Linked DNA regions of Homo sapiens: regions 1 and 3 are each reported to be linked to region 2. Evidence: microRNA targets listed by miRTarBase, many of them from high-throughput screens and not tested one by one. Region 2 holds a microRNA gene; each other region holds the end of a gene's coding sequence.

Region 1 (7,198 bases), not on the chromosome of region 2:
TCAGCGGAGTTGTAGAATTTCCATTTTGGATGCAGTCCTTCTCTCCCCACCCTCTTCTCCCTCACAGCCCTAAATTGAGGTTTGGGGGCTGTTCCTTGCTCCAGAGGACTCCTCATTTGGAACTCAGACTTAATTTCCTTTATCTCATGGCTCTCCCCATGTCCCATCATCAGTTTCTAAGACCACAGCTTGTGGCCCAAGTCTTCCATTTCCCCACTAACCCCAACCTCCATTCATTTAGGAGTCAGCTGAACAGATGTAAAGCACTTCAGTGGTGCCTGGCATACAGTAGATGATCAATACCCATGAATTTCCTTTCCTAGACTTGGAGGCTGTAAGCTTTACAGCCTGTTTTTAAAGAGCTGTACTGACTCTTATGAGTGTGAACACAGTGATCCAATAACTGCATGTTAGATATGAAATATTTTGCACATCACAGACCCAATCTTTAAAACCACTAGCATCTGTACTTGGTCAGTGAGACTGCCATTTCAGAAAGAAATTCATATCCATGTCTAGGCATCCACTAGATATGTCCATATCTAGAAAGTTTTTTAAAGTGTTTGGACTCTTTCCCTTGCAAGGAAATGGACTATGGGTGGTCCAGCTTATATTTGGGATGCCTTTTTCCACACAGATAAAATTCCAAGAAAATAAGATTTTGATCTCATGTAAGTTCCTTTGTGCAAACAAGCTTGCATAGCAAAATGGTGCAGATAAATGTAGATGAAATGGGCTTTGTACAAGTAAATGTAACTATATTATGTTTCTCTGGTATAAAAATAGATCACATGGTGGAGGACAAAAATAGGTGACATGGTAACATAAACCAACTTGTGTAATCAGAGGGTCAACTCTGACATTTTTCACTCTAGGCCTTTTCTAATAGTCTTGTTGCTAGGGCTACAATGTTTTTGCCAGATTGGAACAGAATTGTCAACTCTAATGAAGATTAAGTAGCTTGCCCAACTACGTTTGTTTTTTTTTTTTTTTTTAGCCTCAGTGAATACTGCTGGCTTTAAAAGTCATAATTATGAAGAATGGAAATATCTCTAAAAGATCTATTTTTAAAAATATATAACTAATAAAATTTAAAATTGAGTAGACAGTTTCCATTTCACAGCTATTCCAATATAAACTTTTATCAGTCACATTGAACAAAATAACTAGAAATATTTCATACATTTAAAAAAAGAATAAGAAATTATTTACAAGTTAAGCCGCAAACAATTCACCAAAAACTGAGTAATTAAGGTTACTTAACAAACAATTCTTCTGATTAGTTGGAAAATTGTTTCATTACTGTTCACAAATTCATACCTGATTTACTCTGTAGACAATATAGATTAGGCATAGGATAAAATCCTCTGTATTTGGTTCCTCCCAATCATTGGTCAAAGTCATCTGACAACAGACTATCTGAGGAAAGTGTAAATACAAAGTCACCCAATAAAACATGAATAAGTTTTGCAAAGCACAGTAAAGGAAAACCAGTTTGTTCTGAACACTTTATTGCTAAAAGGATGTAAAGGGTAAGAGGAAAAAGGTGACGAAACACTCCTTTTGATATGCTTGTTGGGGAGTCAGGATGAACTTCCTTGGCTAGGGATAGAAGGAAGAGATCACCTAAACTTCAAAAACCACAATACAATTTGCATACTTCCTTGGCCAGGGATAGGAGAGACCACTAAACTTCAAAAACCACGACACAATTTGCATGCCCATTGACCCCCAGTTTTACTTGTGCACAAAAGCATGAGAATTAAATAAAAATTCATGTGAAGTGACTAGTAAATAATAAATGCTAAGTGTTTATTCCCCTAATGTATTTATATATTTGTTGCCAGGAATTCCAATGCTGAGTAACCTTGCTTTTCCAATAAGCTTACAGCCTTTAGAACCAAAAGAAAGTCATCTTAATTTGAATATTACAGCATTAGTGACATCTGGTGGAAAATATAAGAGTTACAAAGTAGCATTACATAGCTATTCTGATCTTTCATGTAAATTTTAGATAAATTTTACATACTAAATGAAAACAAGATGAAGAAATGGTCTATGAAGTTATCTACCTTATTGTGCTAATAATCTTTGAATCTATATGCTAAAATATATAGGAAGTCAGTATAATTAGCATTATACTAATAAAAACATTTTTCAGCATGCATGTCTATATAGTGAAAAAATGATTAAAAATAGGCATGGGCTCTTTATCCTATTGTGAGTCTCATAAAAAGGGTCTCTTTTTTAAAGGAGAGCCCATACCTCTCTTTTTATGGCATCACATGCCAAAGAACCTCCCTTAACAAGTTTTCAGATCAAATTGTGAACTGTGGGGTGTGTTAGGAAGTATGTCAAGAAAATAGCTGGTTGTGCTTCAGAGAATATGGAATTTAGGTATATTTGGGAGAGACATTCTGTTTGAGATACTATGGATGGAGGCAACAAACGATGTTTTACAAGTGAGCTTTAAATATTACGGTATCAAATGCTCTGAACTAGGGAGGGGTTCAAGTATTTGTGACCAAAAGAGCAAACTGTGATCTGTTACAGGACTGGTAAGCTACAACCCTGGGGCCGAAGCAAACAGCCATGTTTTTTTCTTATTGGAACACACTCACGCTCATTCATTTATGTATTGTCTATAGCTGCTTTCAGCCTCGAGTAGGTGCAAGAGACCATATGCCTTCAAAAGCAGAACTATTTACTACCTGGCCATTTACAGAAAGTTTGCCAACCTCTAGTCCATTAGATAACTGTCATCAAACTTCTCGGTGCCATTCCCACCACCTCCATGGGAGGAGTATACTTCCTGGTCCCATTAAAGTTAGGCTTGACCTTCACTTGCTTTGGTCAGTGTGAAAAAGCTGGCCTTCAGAGTCCTGACTAACCAATGTCCCTCCAACAGAATGAGAAAGGTGCAGCAAAAGCCAACCAATACATGAGACTGTTATACCTCTGCACAAGCATTCTCACAGAGGTTTGACTTCTCTGATTGATGACACTGGGAAAAGGATCCTGAAAGCCAGATACAGTTCAGTTCCTCCTGGGCTCTACTTCAGACCTTGATGGGCTTAACCTCTGTTCATCCTCTACATATGGTAAGCAACACTGAGCCAGAGTCCAGGCCAGGCCTAGAGGCCTATCATGCTGTCTTAGAACCTTCTCTTTAACATGGTGTAGAAACCACTCACAAGTCTTTCAGCTGTTGATTTAAACATCATCCTCCTGAGGTAAGCCTCAAGGTCTAGAAAGAGGATGGGACAGTCCACTTGGAGCTACAGGGCAAAGCTTTTCCAGTATAGCTTCACCTCAATAAAACTCATAGTTTGGCTCCCACTCAGCTCCAAAATGTGTATTTCTTTTTTATTTATTATTTTTTGAGATGGAGCCTTGCTCTGTCGCCCAGGCTAGAGTACAGTGGCACGGTCTTGGCTCACCGCAACCTCCACCTCATGGGTTCAAGCGATTTCTCCTGCCTCAGCCTCCCAAGTAGCTGAGATGCGCCCGCCACCACGCCCAGCTAATTTTTATATTTTTAGTAGAGACGGGGTTTGACCATCTTGGCCAGGCTGGTCTCAAACTCCTGATCTCGTGATCCACCTGCCTCGGCCTCCCAAAGTGCTGGGATTACAGGCGCGAGCCACTGCGCCCAGCCCAAAATGTGTATTTCTTAATTGATTATATAATCTGTAAGGGGTAAAATGACTCATCATGACTAGCTCTCCAGAAACCTCAGAGTAAATAGTAGCATGCAAATGATACAAAAATCTAAGAATTTAATCCTGTTAATATTGGTAGCTGAGTTGAAATGACCAGAGTATACACACAACCTTTAAAAATGTGATTTCAGCCGGGCGCAGTGGCTCACGCCTGTAATCCCAATGCTTTGTGAGGTCAAGGCGGGCAGATCATGAGGTCAGGAGTTCAAGACTAGCCTGGCCAACATGGTGAAACCCTCTCTCTACTAAAAATATAAAAATTAGCCAGGTGTGGTGGCACGTGCCTGTAATCCCAGCTACTCAGGAGGCTGAGACGGAAGAATGGCTGGAATCCGGGAGGCAGAGGCTGTAGTGAGCTGAGCTGCGTCACTGTACTCCAGCCTGGGCGACAGAATAAGACTCCATCTTGGGGGGGAAAAGTGATTTCGCAGAATTTAGTCTGACTTCTCAAATAGTTAAAATACAAATGAAGCATTTAATTGCCACTTTTCTTGAAATCATCTAGGTTGGTAACACCAGTGGTCCACTTATTCCATAAAGATATGAAGAGTCTACAAATTTGTCACTGAGAACCCAGAAACTGCCACTGATCCACAGTATTTGCTCAATATGTAATTTCTGAATGAACAGATTCAGACTATGTGCAATTACTTAAAAATAGTGAAGGTTAAATAAGTTAATACACATAAAGAACTTAGTGTCTAATAATAAACATTAATAAACTGAATTTTTACAAAATGAGGTCAGATTTAGATTAGAGATTAGAGAAGACTTTACAAATCTGCCTTAAACTGACCTTGGAAAAACAGGTGAGAACTGGATAGAAAGCATGTACCAGATGAGGGTATTAATGAAAGCACAGGAATAAGCATAGTATTTAAGTATATAAGGAAAAGTAGGCTGACAATAAGGCTAAGAGTATAGTAAAGTACTAAAATCAACACTTGTTCAACTGGAATTGTTGGACTAATTCCAAAGGACATTTATCTTTTCACAATGATGAAGTAATAGCCTTAAGTCTATTGCTATGAGATGAACAGGATGTGATCAAAGTTTATCCATTAGATTGAAGACACCTCAAGACTCACTCAACTTTGGACCCTTAAGTTCTATAACTTCGTAGGAACAAGAATTCATTAGCTATGCTGAATCAATTCTAATTACCATTTAACTATATCAACACCAAACCAGTATCAAAATGTTTTAAGACAAATTTAAAACAAACTTAACTTTATTTCCTCACTTTCACTTAAAACTTGATTTTATAAAACACATGAAAAAACATTTTTAAGAGTTCTGTATCACAGAACATTAAACAGTACAAATATCCATTGCTTCATAGGTTCAAGTTACATAAATTAAAGTCAAATAATTGGAAACTGATTCAATAGGGAAAACTATACATGAAATGAAGGTCAAAAGGAGCTATACAGCAATATTTCATTGTTTATAGATTATGAGTTACTTTCAGGACCTTAACAAAGATTCTGAATATTTAGACTTCCTTTGTTGTATTTTATACTTAAATATCTCCCTACCTATACTGAGTCAAACTACTTGACCAAAACATCTGATTTAGGAAAGCATCTAGCTTTATAGCACAAGTTTTTCCATCTACAGTTACTATCTTCAAAGGAATATACATCACAATGTTGACAAAAAAACCTCCTGGTTCCTTTTGAACAATGTGCAATAAATTCATGATGTTAACTCCATGGTAAGTCAAATAGGTACCAAAAAAATAAAAGGAACAATTACACACAGTTCAGTAAGTATCATTTTGGTTTTCTCCATGTAAAAATTAACCAATGAAATAAAACATATCAACTATAGATGACTTGATTTCAGGAAAACCACATTTCAAAATTACAATTACATTATTTTCCTCATGTCATCCTCAGTCATTGACAGGAATTTTGTAGGCCACCATGCTATTTACTTTGTGGATTGTAGTAGTAAATGAACGAAGGCGGACTTCCTCAGAATTGGTAATAAACTGTGGTCCCGACTCTTCCCATTTTTCAGGTACAACCAAATCTTTGTCTGTATAAATCAGCAGATCAAATGAACCTAAATTGGGGATAAGATCATTGAAGTATATTATTTTCTAAAAGTAAAACTAATCTTGCTGCCTCTCTTCTATTTTGAACCACTCACTGCTGGAAAAGGTCATTTGGCTTGGTCTCCAATCACTAGTTAATTTATTTTGCTCAATGAACATTTATTTCAGTAAAGAAAATATTGTATCTAACTTCCGTGCAATTTAGTGATTGTGTTCAAGTAACCCTTATCTTATTTAATAATGGTCCCAAAGCACAAGAATAGTGATGCCAGCATATTGTTATAATTGTTCCAGTTTATTATTAACTCTTACTATGCTTAATTTACATATTAAATTTTATCATAGGTATGTATGCATAAGAAAAAAACATTATATAGGGTTCATACTATCCATGGTTTCAGGTATTCACTGTGGGTCTCCCTGTGGAAAGGGAGACTACGATACATTACTTTTGCATGATAATGTTTTTCCTTCAATTTATATTACATAAATCTGATAAATAAGACAAAATTTAATAAAGGGGTGATTACGGCAGTAGCTTAGTCTTTTTGCCAATCAATTTAATTCAACAAGAAGTTGTATAATACTTACAAGAAACTTCCAACAGTGGCAGAAATGTCACCGTAGCTGTGATCTGTCTGATCACTGAACGGATTTCATCCTGGATAGCTTTCTGAGACTTTTCTCTGGGTGCACTGTCAAAAAAAAATCAAATCAATTAATTCATTTCAGGTCTTAACAAATTATTTCAAACATAGTGGTTAGATTATTTATCTGATTAAATGCTCTCAACATCAAATAAGCAGGGCTTATTTGAGAAAGGAGGTTTGTAAAAAATGTGAGTGAAAGTATCCTTCAGACCTACAACCTAGTAGGCACAACATTCATCCTTATTACTTCATTTATCCTGCCAGTCATCTTTTAGAGCTGGTCTTAGTGTCAGGTCATTTAGTATCAGATGACTAGAAAATTTGCCAATCACTTCAAGTTCAGGAAACTTCAGCATCTCTTGAAATAAAAATAAGTGATATCTAAAATATGTATTGGTATAATCATTTCAGCATTTTTAGTAATGCCTAAATGTCTAATTTCCTATTTTCTCAAATAAAACATTAAATTGTATATCAAATTATTTTATAAGCTAAAAATTTCCTAAAATACACCAAAGCCTTCAGAAGCAAACTACATTTCACTATAAGAAATGGTTCTCAGTTTATAGAAGAGCATGCCTAGGACAATGCATTTCTCTTCCAGGGAGTCTGGAACCTTCAGAAATTTATGAAGTGTCTTAGGAAGTAGATGGCATTAAAGGAAGTACAGCAGAGCTACATCTTAAATTGTGTGAGTCTAATATCATTCCTTATAGTTAAAAATATCTTAGAACAATTATTAAATGGTTCATCTAGTATATCAT
Region 2 (7,198 bases):
CAGTGAATTTCAGGCAAAATATGACCCCACGAAACAGACCTCCATTGTGACAGTACCTATTATAATTAAATACTCATTCTTGTGTAATCCATTTTAATAATAACTGTAGCCACCAATATATGTGTGAGGCAAAATGCTGGGCATTTTATTGCCATTATAACTGATAACAACAACCTTTCATGGTAGGTATTACTATCCCAATTTACAACCAAGAAAGTGACAGAGCTGATGATTGAAACCAGGTTTGTCTGGTTCCAAAGCCTAGGACTTCATAGCAGTCATTCAGATCGTGGCACCGTATTTGATAAAACTTTAGTTGCAAACTACTTATTCCTATTGTTCTTAATAAAAGCCCATTATACGCTTGACCAGGCATTTAAATGTTTGAAAGTAGTATAATGCAATACTGATTGGTTTGTCTTTTACATAAATGTAATACTGATTTATTTTTCCCCTTTAGCCACCAGCTAAGTACCTTCTTCCAGAGGTGACGGTGCTTGACTATGGAAAGAAATGTGTGGTCATTGATTTAGATGAAACATTGGTGCACAGTTCGTTTAAGGTAAATCAACATAAAAAAAAAATCCATGATCTTTGTGATTTGATAACAATTGTATTGGAAAAGGGAAAACAAAAAGGATGAAAGCTTATGGTGGTTAGTGTGTGACTTCACTCTTCATGTAGAAATCCCAGGAGCTGCTTATTAACCCAGGTGAACATTAACTAAAGTAGTTGAATATTAACATAATTAGTTTGGAAAGAAAACACTAAGCTACCAACATCACTGGGACCTCATTCTTAGGAGGTTTGCATTTTCCAATGCTGTAACCGCTGCAGAAATACTTTTCAGGTGGCACAAGGCACTCAGTGCCCCCAGGATACTGTTTATATTTGTCAAGATGACCAGAGTGCTATGTGTTTTATTGGGAGGGGGAGGGGAGTCTCTGTTGGAAACTGTCAAATGACCTGGTATCATGGAGATTTTCCCAGATTGATTTTTGAAAGATGTCCAACTCTGAAGAAGACTTCCAGACTTCAGGGCATCTGAACAGATTCAGCCATTTAATTTGAGCATCTTCATGACAAGAAGTGGCTGGGGTTTTTTGCAAGCTTCACAGCTAAATGAGTACCCACCTTCAGGACTTCCCTCCTGAAGGGTGTGGAGGTCAGACACTCTTCCTTCCTGTCACCTTCCCTGATCTCCATCTTCCTGCTGGAAAAACAGCAGAAACGGCCTCCATGCAGGAAGAGCTGTGGCGACACTGTTAAGAAATGAGTTAGTTAACCATTTTTTTTTGACGTGAAATAAATTGTATAAAAGAGGCAAATGATGAAAAGTTTGGAAATAGGAGATTGGTGTTTTGGGGAGAAGAAGCAGGTATTTAGGATTCTGGTCTTGTTTTCCTTGGATTATTTCTGGTAATGGGACTGCTCTATCATTGTACTGCATTCCTCTTTCCCCCACCAGCCTGGGACTCCCCTTCACTGAGAGACATGAAGGTCACCATCCATGATGGGGCATGTGTCTCACATGAACCATAGTCATTCCTTACAAGTTGTAGGAAGCAGAAGAGCTGTCAAATGTGCCCAAACACCTTTCTACCAGAAACATCCTTCTTTGTTCTTCTCACTAAACAGAGACCTTTCTGGTAGGACAAAGCCAGAAAATTGTCTTTGAGTCCTTTGAAGAGTGGAGAAGAGACCACACTGACCTCTAGCAGTGAGAAATTGCCTTGTTCTGGCTACTGGGGCATGCAGGGACCACCTCATTCCCTAGCACTTGAGGACCAGCCCCTTCCATAGTTGGTCCAGGGGATATGGTGACTTTGTGTCCCAGCTTAACCCTAGATAGCATTGGAAGCCATTTCTCCCCCATGGGCAAGTTGCTCAGGACTTTTCCAAGTCTCTGTGAAGGAAAGCCCTTCAGAGCAGGGGTCGGTTGCCATCACAGCATAGAGAACTCCCTCCCAAGCAACTGTGGGAGTGTAGGCAACACTGGCCAGATCACCTGATGTTACTGAGGATTCCTGGCTCCAAAGGCAAGGCCCTGGTAGCCCCCAGTGTCTCTAGCACCTGCTCGGAGAGCATTGATGCCACAAGCTAATGTGAATGGTGTTTCCTCATTTCTTCCCTCCCCTGGCCTGCCTACATTTGCAACCAGAATATTCTTTATGGTTTTTAAAGTTCTGGGCATTTCAAAGTCCTTTGAGAATCTGAAAGCTGTGAACCCTCTTCCCTTCGAAAATGTACATTTGTACAATGCATAGGTTCATGGATCCCAAGTGAAGAACCCTAGCTGTAGCAGAGTCTCCTTTATACCAGCAGGAGAGAGGAGAGTAAGGGTGGTGCTTGCTGTAAGCTGGGGAATGGTTTTTCTCTTTTTAATATACTCCGTGGAATGTGATTCCATAATCTAATGCCTTGGGAGAGTCTCTTCCTTCAGTCTTTCCTTTTGTTTTTTAGCATGATTCTGATTTTAGTTGTGCAATTATATGATATTAAACTCATCCTTGGCCTTCCAACTCTGGGAGTAAATAAACAGTGATCATAAGCTAAGTGCTTAGTAACGGTGCTATGACCTAGCATTGTCCATGTTTTTTTGTTTTGTTTTTTGTTTTTTGTTTTTTAGTTTATATATCAACAAAGAGGGTTTGTGTGTACTGTGATGGGCTTAAAAGCAGACTTCGGTTCAGAGTCTGACCAGATGCTGTACCCCTACCCCTGCCCAGAGGCCACCACACACACCTTCTCCTTCCTTCTGTCTCTCTTCTCTTGTCCAGGGGTTTGCAGGCTGATGATTCAGTTGGGCCTGTTCATTTAAGTAGTTTTGTACCTAATTTGTGGAATTCCATTGAGAACTGTGTGTAAGTTCATCATTGAGAACGTAATGACTGCTGAAGAATCATATTTGAATTTTAAATGTCATTAATATTGTCAAAGAGTTATTTAAAATATCCAGAAGTTTGTGGGTGTGCTGGATGTTGTGTTCCTTGGAGCGGAGCAGGCATAGGGTGGGCTGGCTCTGTACCCCCACCCAAGGCAGGAGCTGGTGCCAGGCTACCTGGGAGGGCCTGAAATCACTGATTCTCAGTACTGGACTGGGGCCATGGGCATGCATCAGACCCATCACAATAGCTAAGGAAGAGAGGAGAAACTGAGGTCCAAGGAGAGGAAGAGCCTGCCCAAGGGTGTGGCCTGCGGCCTCTGACTTTACCCCCACATGGCCTTGTTACTGTTTTGAGTCCGTGTGGCCATCTTCTCCTGCTGAGCAGCCCATCGCAGGGCAGCCGCCAGTTGTGGGTCCAAGTACAAATAGTTTTCCCTCAAGCAGCACTGTCCTCGGAGCCCATTACATGCTCAGCTCCTCCCCCTGGTGGCTAGCAGTGATTCCCCATCACCCCAGCAAGACTCTGGGCAAGAGCTGGAGTTTTCAGGAGCCCCATCCTCTAGCCAGGCAGTGCCACACTTTTTGGTTGAGGCCAGGCAGGTGATATTGGACCAAGATGCTGAAAATGTAATGACATTCACAGTGGAAAATAATGTGCTTTCCTGCTTGTGCTTATTTTAAGGAACCAAGGCATGCTTCATCATCCTCCTCCTGAACTGTTTTTTCCAATAACCAAAACATTGGTCTAGGCAGGCTTTTTTCTTGCTAAAATTTCCAGAGTTTTTTTGTTCCTTCAGACATATTAATTATAGTCTCTTTTTTCTCTAGCCTATTAGTAATGCTGATTTTATTGTTCCGGTTGAAATCGATGGAACTATACATCAGGTAAGAAACTGAAGCTAAATTTGAGTTTCAATTAAGATTTTTTAGTACTTACATTTCCTATGAACTTTATTTCTAAATTCTCATTTCAGTAATAACTTTATTACGGAATCAAAAGGAAGCATACTGTAATAAATACAATGTTTTTCTTTTTTTCACTCCAATGAATTTATTTTATACTGAGATTATAAGGAAACTATAGTCGTAAATATTAGATGCGGTTGCAAGTTCAAATAGTTCTTTGATTTGAATTTCAGAAGTTTCCGTATCCCCCACTGGCCTAGCTTGATGGTCTAATTAACTTCCTTGTGTAATTGCTTTCGGCTACTCTCCTAGCAGGCAACAGGAAAATGCCACAAGTCACCCACTTATGGTGGACTCTCGGGAAAAAGTGTCCATTTTCAATGCCAGCTGCTCCAGACTGATCTTATCATTCCTGCATCGTTTTCTCCAGAGAATCTTTAGCAAATACCCACCCCAAAAGAAAAAGGGGGAAGGGTGTGAGTTTTCGGATCCGCAGGCTGCTATGAATAAAGATGCCGTAGTCAGTTGGCATGCGTCTTCGTTGCTTCTGATTTTTTTTCCTTATCTGCATAAAGCTCTTCCGGAAATAACTTCATTTATGAACAAATTGGGAATGTTGTAGGAAAACTAGCTTTAGAGGTTGAAGCTGGGGGGCTTTTGTCAGATTTTCCACAGGGATGATCTAACCATCTTCCTTGTCAAGTCCAAGGTCTTAAAGGGAGCGTATCTGGCCTGATATCCCAGGAAGGAGACTTTCCTGGTACTTGAGCCACAACGGGATGTCTTTTCTTAGCAATGTCAGTAGTCTTTGGTTCTTGAGTGCAAGGTGTCAGAACTGGAGAAAGCTTGGGAATCAGCTGGTCCAGCTGCCTCATTGTCTAGATGGAGAAACTGAGGCTCCGCCAGGGAAGGGGTTGGTTAAAGGTCATACGATGGGAAGAATTAAAATGAAAATTCCAGTCTCCTGCCTCCTGGCCCAGGGCTCTTTTCCTGATACGCAAGTCCCTTCCCTCCCATGTCCTTGCTTTCTTGCTTATTCTCCAGGACATCCTGCCAGGAAACAGTCCCGGGGAGAGGCAGCTTTTTTCCTAGTGTTTCCACACTTCATGCTTTTAAAAGCCATCACAGAGCCAAAACGGCAGGCACTTGGGCATTTAACATTTGCAAAAGCATCAACTGAATTAACTCAGCATCTGAGAAGCAGTTAAGGCTTCTGCATTTATCATCTTGGCTTGTGTTACATAGTGCTCATGATGAGACAAAGGAGAGGCTGCCCAATGGCATAGCAAGAATTAGGAGAGAAATTAATCCTTTGTACCACGTGACTGTAAGCATGACTGGCCTGCCCACTGCTGACCCATTCTTGCAGGAGCTCCCCCACCCTCCATCCTGGCTGTGCTGTGATATCACAAGGTCCCAGGGCTGGGGTCAGAAATTCTCTCCCGAGGGAATGAAGCCACAGGAGCCAAGAGCAGGAGGACCAAGGCCCTGGCGAAGGCCGTGGCCTCGTTCAAGTAATCCAGGATAGGCTGTGCAGGTCCCAATGGGCCTATTCTTGGTTACTTGCACGGGGACGCGGGCCTGGACGCCGGCATCCGGGCTCAGGACCCCCCTCTCTGCCAGAGGCACCAACACCAGAGTTCACAAATCAGTCTCCTGCCCTTTGCATGTAGCAAAGCTTGCTTTCCAAGCAGGACTCCCAGGGTGACTGAGGACTACAGGCCACACCCGTTTGCTGGCAACGAGGAGTCTTGTGGGCAAAGTGGGAGTCTGCAGCTGTTGCAGCCACAGGCCCTGCCCTCAGCCCTACCCCAGCCTCCCAGCTCCTCAGAGCTGTGTTGGCACCCGTGCTACGACATCCTGTTCCTCCAGCCCCTCGCTCCACCCTCAGCCACAAATCCATGTCCACCTCCTTCTTTCAGTCACCCATGAATTTCCCACTGAGTCCTGGCCCTCCTGAGCTCCTGCTTCTGGCACCTTGAAAATGACTTGGTTCTGTATAGAATTCCTCGGCCAGCAGCACACCCAGCATGTGGTGCAGAGCCCTCATCTCCCCTCTGCTGCTCCTCCTGCCATTCTCACCTGCTCCATCTGCCATTCAAGGCCCTAATGTGCCCACTGTGACCTGCCTCTCACTTCATCTTCAGCCACTTCCTCTCCCAGACCCTGCTGCTCCGGCTTCTCTCACTACCTCTGATGGCTGGGCACACAGCCTGGCTACTCTCTAGCTTCTCAAGTATTCTCAGGCCTCGGGTCTCACCCTCTACTGTTTCCTCTGCCTGAAAGCCCACTTCTTCTCAACCTTATTGGCCTGGTGAACTCCTTCAAGGTCCAGGCCAAATGTTATCTTCTATGATCCCCTCCCCTTGTGAGGGGAGTTAATTGTCCTTAATTTATCCCTCTACTACAACTTTCATTATGCCATGTTTATTTTTATATGTTTTTGCCTATGTCTGTTCTAGAGTATGAGCTCTTCAAGGGCAAGGCCTGTGTTTTATTCATCTTTGCAACTACATCAGGCTGAGCTCAGAGCTGAGGCTCAGTAAACATGCTGAATTGAATTTTAAAGAGTTTGATTTATTTTAGTGAAGTGGCTAATTTCAAACGGAATTTATTCAAGTTTGAATTAGTTCTTCCCTCCTCCCACTTCCTCTGTCTTCTCTCACCAGCTTTGCCTTCTCTCCCATCTCCCTTGTTTCCCCAGATTCATTCAGGCTCCCTAATCAAGAACCTATGTATGGTCTGAAGCCTGGCCTCCTCACTGCTACCCCCTGGCCTGGCCTGGTCAAAAGGGTGCACAGAGCCCAGCCATTCTAGAAAAGGCTACTCTTTGCACCCCTCTGCTCAGAGACCCCTCCTGATGGATTATGTCTGGGGTCCAGGAATAGCGATGGTTTCACATCCCCTGAAACATACCAAGCCCACCCTTTATGGTGTCATAGACAGCTTCCCAAGCTGACAAGGAAGCCCCTTCTTGCAGCTTTGCTGGGCCTGTGCTTCAACCCCAGACCTTCCTAGTAAGGGGGATGTCCATCCAGAACAGAAGGTGGCAGCCGGAGCAATCCCAGACCTGCTGGGCAATATGCTGGGCCTGGACCTCTGAAAGGACAACACCCAGACCGTGGCCCGTGCCCACACAGGTCCTGACCCTCAGCAGGTGCCAAGAAACACACGTGAAATGAATGAGTCATTACACACAAACATGGTACAACCCTTCCATTTGCTGGCCCTGAATATCCCCAAGACCCTCACACCATGGTCAGCTTCTCTTTTTCCCTTAGGAGGGGCGTCTGCAGTGAACTCAGACCTGGAGCCCTGTCTGAGGAGTGCCACGTCTGACTCCATAGCCCCTCATACAGTCTAGGCCTCTGCCTGCTATGCATAGACCTGGGGGAGGGAGGCAGG
Region 3 (7,168 bases), not on the chromosome of region 2:
TCAAGAAATGGGGGATAAAATTGGAGGTGGCAATATCGTGACAACAGGAGTCCCAGGAGCAGAGAAAAATAAAAATGGAAAAGTGGGTCTATTTTGTGAATGAATGGCTGAGCATAGGACTCCAAGTGACCCAGGCAAGCTGAGCTCCCCATGGTGAGTTGTGTGTTAACTGTCTCATCAAGCCACGAAGTTATCTATGTGCAGTAGCACTCCACCACCGAATAGAATAGAGTTATACAAGCAGGCCTAGATGATGAATAAGCTGCCTGAGCAAGTGAATCATACTCCCAACTGCTGTACTGCCATCCCTCTCTCACCCACACCTGAAGCCTCATGGGGAATTCCCTGTGACCAGGTGACTAAGGGATACAATATTCTATTCCAGCTTGGTTTATACATAGCCCTGCATGATATGCTGGCCCTGCTGAAGTAGCTAGCTGTAGTGTTACAGCCCTACTTAGGGTTGATCCTGAAGGACAGTGAGAAGGGAAATTCTCCCAGTAGAACAACTGCCTGGTCACATAGCTGGTCAGAGGTATAGATAGGTTTCCACTGTTTCATGAGTAGTTTTTAATGATTCGGCTAAATGGTGAAGGACTTGGAAATAACAGGACTGAAATATTATTGACAAGGTCTGAGGAAGAGCATATGGCTGTCCCTCTTGGAATGGGCAGAGATATTCACGTCCCACATAAATAAGCACCAGAGAGAGTCCACTGCAGAAGAGGAGCTCAATCAAGTAGACAGGTAGGTGTCCTGTTCTGTGATGTCAGTCAGCCTCTTATCTGTCACCCTTTTCTTTGCCCAATGGATTCCTGAACAAAATGGCCATGGTGGCAGGCATGGAGGTTATGCATGGACTCCACAATATGGACTTCCACCACGACCAATCTGGCTATAAGCCACTGCTGAGTGCCCAACCTGCCAACAGAACAGTAACCCAAGCCCCCCTGTGGAACTATTTCTTGGTGGCAGCTGATTACAGACAAGACAAAATGAAAAAAAGCCACTGGACCCCCAAAATTCTACTGGCAGGAAGCAAACTGGGGAAACAGTTCAGCTGCAAACATTTGCTGCCTTTCATGAAAAAGGAAGGCACACAGGGTAAAACCAAGAGATCAGAGGGCAGAGCCTTAGAATATTATTCCCAGGCCTTGACATCTAATCAAGAAACTTCCATTTTCCCAGCTGGATTTCAGAGTTGTTAGTTATAGACCAGTAACTCCTTTATGTCTCCCATTTCCCCTCTTTTTGAACCAGAATGTCTGTAGTAGTTGTCCTATGGCTATCCCACCATTGTACCTAGGGTGTGTTGGGGACAGATAACTTGCCTCTTAAGTCTCACAAATCAGCCAGGCACGGTGGCTCATGCCTGTAATCCCAGCACTTTGGGAGGCCAAGGTGGAAGGATTGAGCCCAGGAGTTTGAGAACAGTCTGGGCAATATAGTAAGATCTCGTCTCTATAACAAAATAAAAATAAAAAATAATTTTCTTTTTTTTTTTTGAGACGGAGTCTTGCTCTGTAGCCCAGGCTGGAGTGCGGTGGCGTGATCTCGGCTCACTGCAAACTCCGTCTCCCGGGTTCAAGCGATTCTCCTGCCTCAGCCTCCAGGCGCCCACCACCACTCCCGGCTAATTTTTTGTATTTTTAGTAGAGACGGGGTTTCACCGTGTTAGCCAGGATGGTCTCGATCTCCTGACCACATGATTCGCCCGCCTCGGCCTCCCAAAGTGCTGGGATTACAGACGTGAGCCACTGCACCCGGCCAAAAAATAATTTTTTACAAAAAAACAATTGTCTCACAAATCTAAAGATGGAGAAAAATAGTAGTTAAGAAGCCATACTCAAACAGCCTCTTTCATATATGGACCTGATTTAGATGTTCTGGATTTTGGGGCAATGCTGTAATTGGATGAGACTTTGAGAGACTTTGGGAAGTGGTGAATGTATATTGCATGTGGAAGCAACATGAATCACCAGGACCAGTGGAAAAACTATAGTTGTCAGTCTCCAAGATGACCCCCAATGACCCCCCGCCTCCTGGTATTCACACCTTTGTGTAATCCCCTCCCATTGAGTGTGGCCTGGACCTAGTAACTGACCTACTTTTTTTTTTTTTGAGACGGAGTTTGCACTTGTTGCCCAGACTGGAGTGCAATGGCGCGATCTTGGCTCACCGCAACCTCTGCCTCCCGGGTTCAAGCAATTCTCCTGCCTCAGCCTCCTGAGTAGCTGGAATTACAGGCACCCGCGACGACACCCAGCTAATTTTGTACTTTTAGTAGAGATGGGGTTTCTCCATGTTGGTCAGGTTGGTCTCGAACTCCTGACCTCAGGTGATCCGCCCGTCTCAGCTTCCCAAAGTGCTGGGATTACAGGTGTGAGCCACTGTGCCCGGCAGTAACTGACTTACTTCTAACGAATAGAATATTGCAAAAGTGATGGGATCTCACATCTGAAATTAAGTTATAAAGACTATGAGTTCTGTCTGGCATGTGGGCACTCTCCTTCTATCTCTAGCTCATCTTACTTGTTTGCTGTGATGAAGCAAGCTGCCATATTATGAGCCACCCTATGAAAGGGTGCACATGGCAAGGAACCTGAGAGTGACCCCCAGCCAACAGCCAGCAAGACTGAATATGCCAACAGCCACATGAGTCAGCTTGAAAGCAGATCTTTCCCCAGTCAAGCCTTGAGATGACTGTAGCCCCAGCTCACACCTTGCTGGCTGTGAGACCCTGAAACAGAAACTCAGCTAAGTTGTGCCCAGATTCCTAACCACAGGGACTGTGAGATAAAATGTTGTTTTAAGCCACTGTTTTTGAGATAATTTGTTATGTAGCAAATATATAACCAATAGAGATAGGCGTGGAGGTTATGTACCTCGGCAATATGAACTTCTAACCTACCAAGGCCACTGTGGCCCTAGCACTGCTGAATTCCCAACCTACCAACAGCAGAGATCAACACTGAGCTCCCACTGTGAACTATTTCCGGATTGCAGGCTGATTACTTTGGACCCCTTCTGTCTAGCACAGGCCTTAGGGTCACAGAGATTTGGTGAAAATCCCAGCTCTGCCAGGCTGATATGCTTAGGTGAGGCCTGTTTTCCTAGGGGTCTGTTTCCTGTGTCTGTTGGGGACTTTGTGAAATACCTCACATGGAGCTGAGCACCCAGGTGGAGGTTCACAAGGGGCTGTTCCCCTTCCTTTCATGTGAGTGCCCAGGGGCAAGAACCCTGTTCCTCTGCTTCCTAACCCCTCTTCTCCCATCACAATTTCAGGTCTTCTGGGAAGCATGGTTAGTGTCTGCCCCTTCAAGGACCCACTGACCATGTACCTCAGACCCCAGGCGCCACTCCCAAGGGGTGGTATCCTGTACCACTGGACTCTGCAATGCAAAGGAAACAGAGTCATATGCACAGTGTGGAGCCCCAACTGATGCTCCTACCTCCTTCTAAGCTAGATTGCGGGCCCTTGGCCTGGAAGTGGAGACAGACTGAGGCCTGGGCCTTGCCTTCCCTCCAGAAGCTCCAGAGCTTGGGGGTGGGAGGAGAGACAGACCTATTAATCTTAGTGTGTTTCAGACACCAGGTAAGGCACAGGTGGAGACACTAAGGAGAAGGGGAAGAAGGGTTCAGTTGGGCCTGAAGGGTTTGGGTAAAGTCCTTAATAGAAGTGATGTCTCTTTCCATCCCCTTGTCACCTGCAGATTCAGGAGCCATCCTGAGGGATGTGGCAACATTTGGGAGGACTCGGCAGCTAGGTGATATCTCTATAATAGAAAATGACTTTGAGGTGAGAAGATACCCACTGCTTCCCTGACCTCATTCTCCCCAGCCCCTTATCTGAGGGGGAGGGTGTCCCCTGAGCCAGTCCCCCTCCCTTTCTAGGGGAGTATCTGGGAAAGAGGGCAGATTTGGAACCAGAGAAAGCTCTCTGGAAGAGGTTAGATTTGATCTGGGTCTTGCAGGATGATGGCCAGGGCCTCTCCTGCAGAGTTCATGGAATGCATGTCTGCTGTGAAGGAGTGTGTGAGGGATGGGACACAGACGTGCCAACATGGTAAAGGCTGTCTGAAAACTGGTGAAGGATGGGCCTATACCAGGGAGGCCTCCGTCCTGGGCCAAGCAGTTCTCTAACCTGGGAGTTGCTTCAGGTTGTAGGCACCATCTCTTCCTCTCCTGTCTGGACACTTCCTGTGGCTGACTGCCTTGGCAGTGGTAGTTAAGTGCTGAGATTGAGCCCCTTCCTGCCCATCCCAGCTCTCACACTCATCTCTCCTGTCAGCTCCTCCAACCCCCTTTTCATGATCAATTCCAGCCAAAAGGTCAGCCTTTTCCCCTAGACTGAGACCTGGGGTCAAGCTGGACCCGGCAGGGTTGTCCACGGACTCCTCTCTCTCTCCTTACTTGTATAGCCTAGGGTCCCAACTGGAAGACTAGATGAAGCAGGGCTGAGCCAGACCTTCCCACCAATCAAAGCTGCCAGAAGAGGGCGGGCTTTCTTATTTACCACTAGGTTCCTATCAGCTGCAAATATTGGGAAGGGGGAATGAAACCCATGAACGTTCAGATGAGAAAGCAAAATAAGAGTGGCAGTGTGCTAAGCTCCTGGGCTAGGGATCAGGACCCAGCCTTTAGCCTCCTCACAGCCCCTTGAGAGGACGGAAAGCCCTTGAGGCAGGCATGATAGGAAGCTGACTGGCTTAGGGCTTCCATACTCTTGCTTCCTCCTTTGTATCCTCGTATCATGGGCAGACTCCAAACACAGAACACTCAAGACCACAAAGAATGGTTCTTAGCCTTTGGAGGGTCAAGGATCCCTTTATGAATCTGATACAAGCTGGTTAGTCTTCTTGTCAGAAAAACACATGCATGCAAACACCCACAAAAACATGTAAACAATCTGTTGATGGTCCCTGATTTAGTCCAGCACCCTCATCTTAAAGACTTTGGGACTCAGAAGAGAGATCTTTCCAACTACTATGGGACCATTAATGGGCTTGAAACCACTTTGCTAAGTGAAAGAAGCTAGACACAAAGGATCACATATTATACGATTCCATTTATGTAAAATGTCCAGAATAGGCAAATGGGATGAGGGGTAAAGGACGCCTAAGGGATATGGAGTTTCTTTCTGCAGTGATGAAAATGTTCTGAAATTTTTTTTCGAATGATGGCTGCACAACTCTGAATATACTAAAAGCTATTTAATTGTATACTTTTAAGTGGGTGACTGTATGGTATGTACATTATATATATCAATAAGCTGTCTTAAAAAAGTGAACTCAGGGGTTGCAAATGACCACACATCTGAGCTTTAGTCCCCATTCATCAGGGGCATAACCTGTGGAGAAAAATCAGGGAATTATGCAGTAGATGGGTTAGACAGGAAAACATTCTAGGAAGAACGAGATTCTATGTATAATCTTAAGGGCAATAAAGCATCATGGAAGGTTTTAAGCAGTATATAATCAGATCTACACTTTAGAAACCCCCCAAATCACTGAATTGTACATTTCAAACAAGTGAATTTTATAGTATGTAAATTATATCTCAATAAAGCCATTAACAAAAAAATCCCTTTGGGAGCTTGAGGAGGATAAACTGGAGGGCATCAACTGGGGGAGGTTGTAGTGTAGGAGTTTGGGTGAGGGGGCCCGAGCCCATCTGTTTGGACTTGAGGGAAAGTGGCTTGGGGTTAGAGTCGGGGGAGGATCAGAATGTCTTGCCCAAGGTTAAGAAGCTGGTGGAACTTGATTTCAGAACCCAGAGCTCCCTGGCTTCAGCCCTAGTGCTCCTGCCAGCACTACAGCTGCTCCACTGACTGGTGATGGAAGCACTGTCTTCCCCGTCTAAGAGAAATGCACTTCAGAAACATGTTTCCAAAAAATGTTTCTAAGGGTTTTATTTCTAACAAGAGGAAAATAATAAAATAAAATTAAAATAGGCTTCAGTTGGAACCAAGTTTCTTGTTTTGCTTTTTTTTTTCTTTTGAACAAATTAATTACACACCAACAATCTTCTTTTATTACAACATGAACCCAGGAGGAGGAAAGGAGACAGGGGAGGACAGGGAGGGAGGACTGAGGTGGTTGTGAGGACAAGCACCAAAAGCTTTCTTCAGATCACAGGGAGCCCTGTTCAGCTCCCCAGCCAAATTCCTTTAAAATAAAAAACTGTGAGCACGGCTATGTGAAGTTTCCTCCTCCTGGGTGGAACAGTCAGGGGAAGGGAGAGGGAGAAGGGGGTAGGAAGGAAGGAAAAGAGGGGAGGAGAGTGGGGGCAGGGGTTAGTGTAGCATGGCCTGGCCAGGACCAGAACTGGGGAGAGAAGGGAGGAGAGTCCCCCAGTTTGCATATACACTGGCCTTGTCTCTGGAATGGTGATGGCCCAGCCCCAGCCACCCCCCTGCCCACCAGCCCATCCATCTATCTGCCTCAGGTGTCTGGGAATGCTGGTTAGAGGCTACCAGGGAGGGAAGACTCCAGGGGCCGGCCCCCAGGAGCTGAGGTCTGAACAATACCTTGGAGTCAGAATACAAAAGTCAAGGGACTCAGGGGTGGGCGGGTAGCAGGGATGGCCACCCCCCTACCCGCCCACCCCCCAAGAAGCAGGCTTGATGGTCAGAAAGAGGATCCTTGAGGCCGAGGGGGGTCTCTGTCAGGGTCTGTGCTAGGCTCAGCCACTGTCACAACTGTTGCTGAGGCGGCTGCTGTGGGCAGGGCAGATGCAGCCGGGGAGTCAGAGTGGAGAAAGGGGCCGAGGGGCCTGAAGTGGTCCCTTCCGCCGGTTCCAAGCCATTCTGGTTCTCCTGGGTGCTGGGGCTGCCAGTGGTGGGGATGGGTGCAGGGGGGCCCTCACCCCCAGTCTCCTCCTCCAGCTCTTCCTCCTCCTGGACCTCCTCAGCCTCTGGCCCTGAGCTCCGTACCCTCTTTGGCTCTAGCTCCTCTCGGGCTGGGTCATCGCCCTCCCCACCCCGATCCACCTTCCGCCGCCGCCGCCTCTCCAGGGCCCGGCCCCGAGCCCGACTCCCGTGACGCTCTGCCTTCTCCAGCTGTGATTACAGACAGGCAGAAAGACAGGTTGTGGGCCAGTGGTCAGGCCTGGGCTCCCTACTCGGCCTGACCTCCTGGCCCGGCCCATGACCCCTCTCCTCACCTCC

Evidence for each region. Region 2 holds the annotated microRNA hsa-miR-26a-5p (UUCAAGUAAUCCAGGAUAGGCU, at 5,303-5,324, shown strand). A microRNA usually pairs through its seed, bases 2 to 8, with sites in the 3' UTR of a target mRNA and lowers its output. Matches are read on the target gene's strand: a 7mer-m8 pairs with bases 2 to 8, a 7mer-A1 pairs with bases 2 to 7 and ends in A, and an 8mer does both.
Region 1: miRTarBase lists MAD2L1 as a target of hsa-miR-26a-5p. Seed matches in the 3' UTR shown: 7mer-A1 at 5,066-5,072 and 8mer at 2,510-2,517.
Region 3: miRTarBase lists KDM5C as a target of hsa-miR-26a-5p. The part of its 3' UTR that is shown has no 7-base or 8-base seed match.

Annotation. Positions count from the first base shown.
Region 1 is chr4:120,054,499-120,061,696 of GRCh38, forward strand. MAD2L1 (mitotic arrest deficient 2 like 1) reads right to left here. Exons shown (of 5, transcript NM_002358.4): 4 at 6,376-6,479; 5 at 1,125-5,792. The coding sequence ends at 5,620. Among named protein-coding and RNA genes, the nearest start is that of MAD2L1, 8.8 kb to the right of the region's middle.
Region 2 is chr3:37,964,111-37,971,308 of GRCh38, forward strand. MIR26A1 (microRNA 26a-1) reads left to right here and starts at 5,294; the gene lies at 5,294-5,370. It overlaps CTDSPL (CTD small phosphatase like), which reads left to right. Exons shown (of 8, transcript NM_001008392.2): 4 at 461-562; 5 at 3,716-3,772. RefSeq lists enhancers at 4,964-5,527, 5,528-6,089.
Region 3 is chrX:53,186,273-53,193,440 of GRCh38, forward strand. It overlaps KDM5C (lysine demethylase 5C), which reads right to left. Exons shown (of 26, transcript NM_004187.5): 25 at 7,165-7,168; 26 at 5,886-7,060. The coding sequence ends at 6,695. Among named protein-coding and RNA genes, the nearest start is that of MIR6895, 5.6 kb to the right of the region's middle. RefSeq lists a silencer at 2,647-2,726 and enhancers at 2,907-3,186, 3,557-3,606.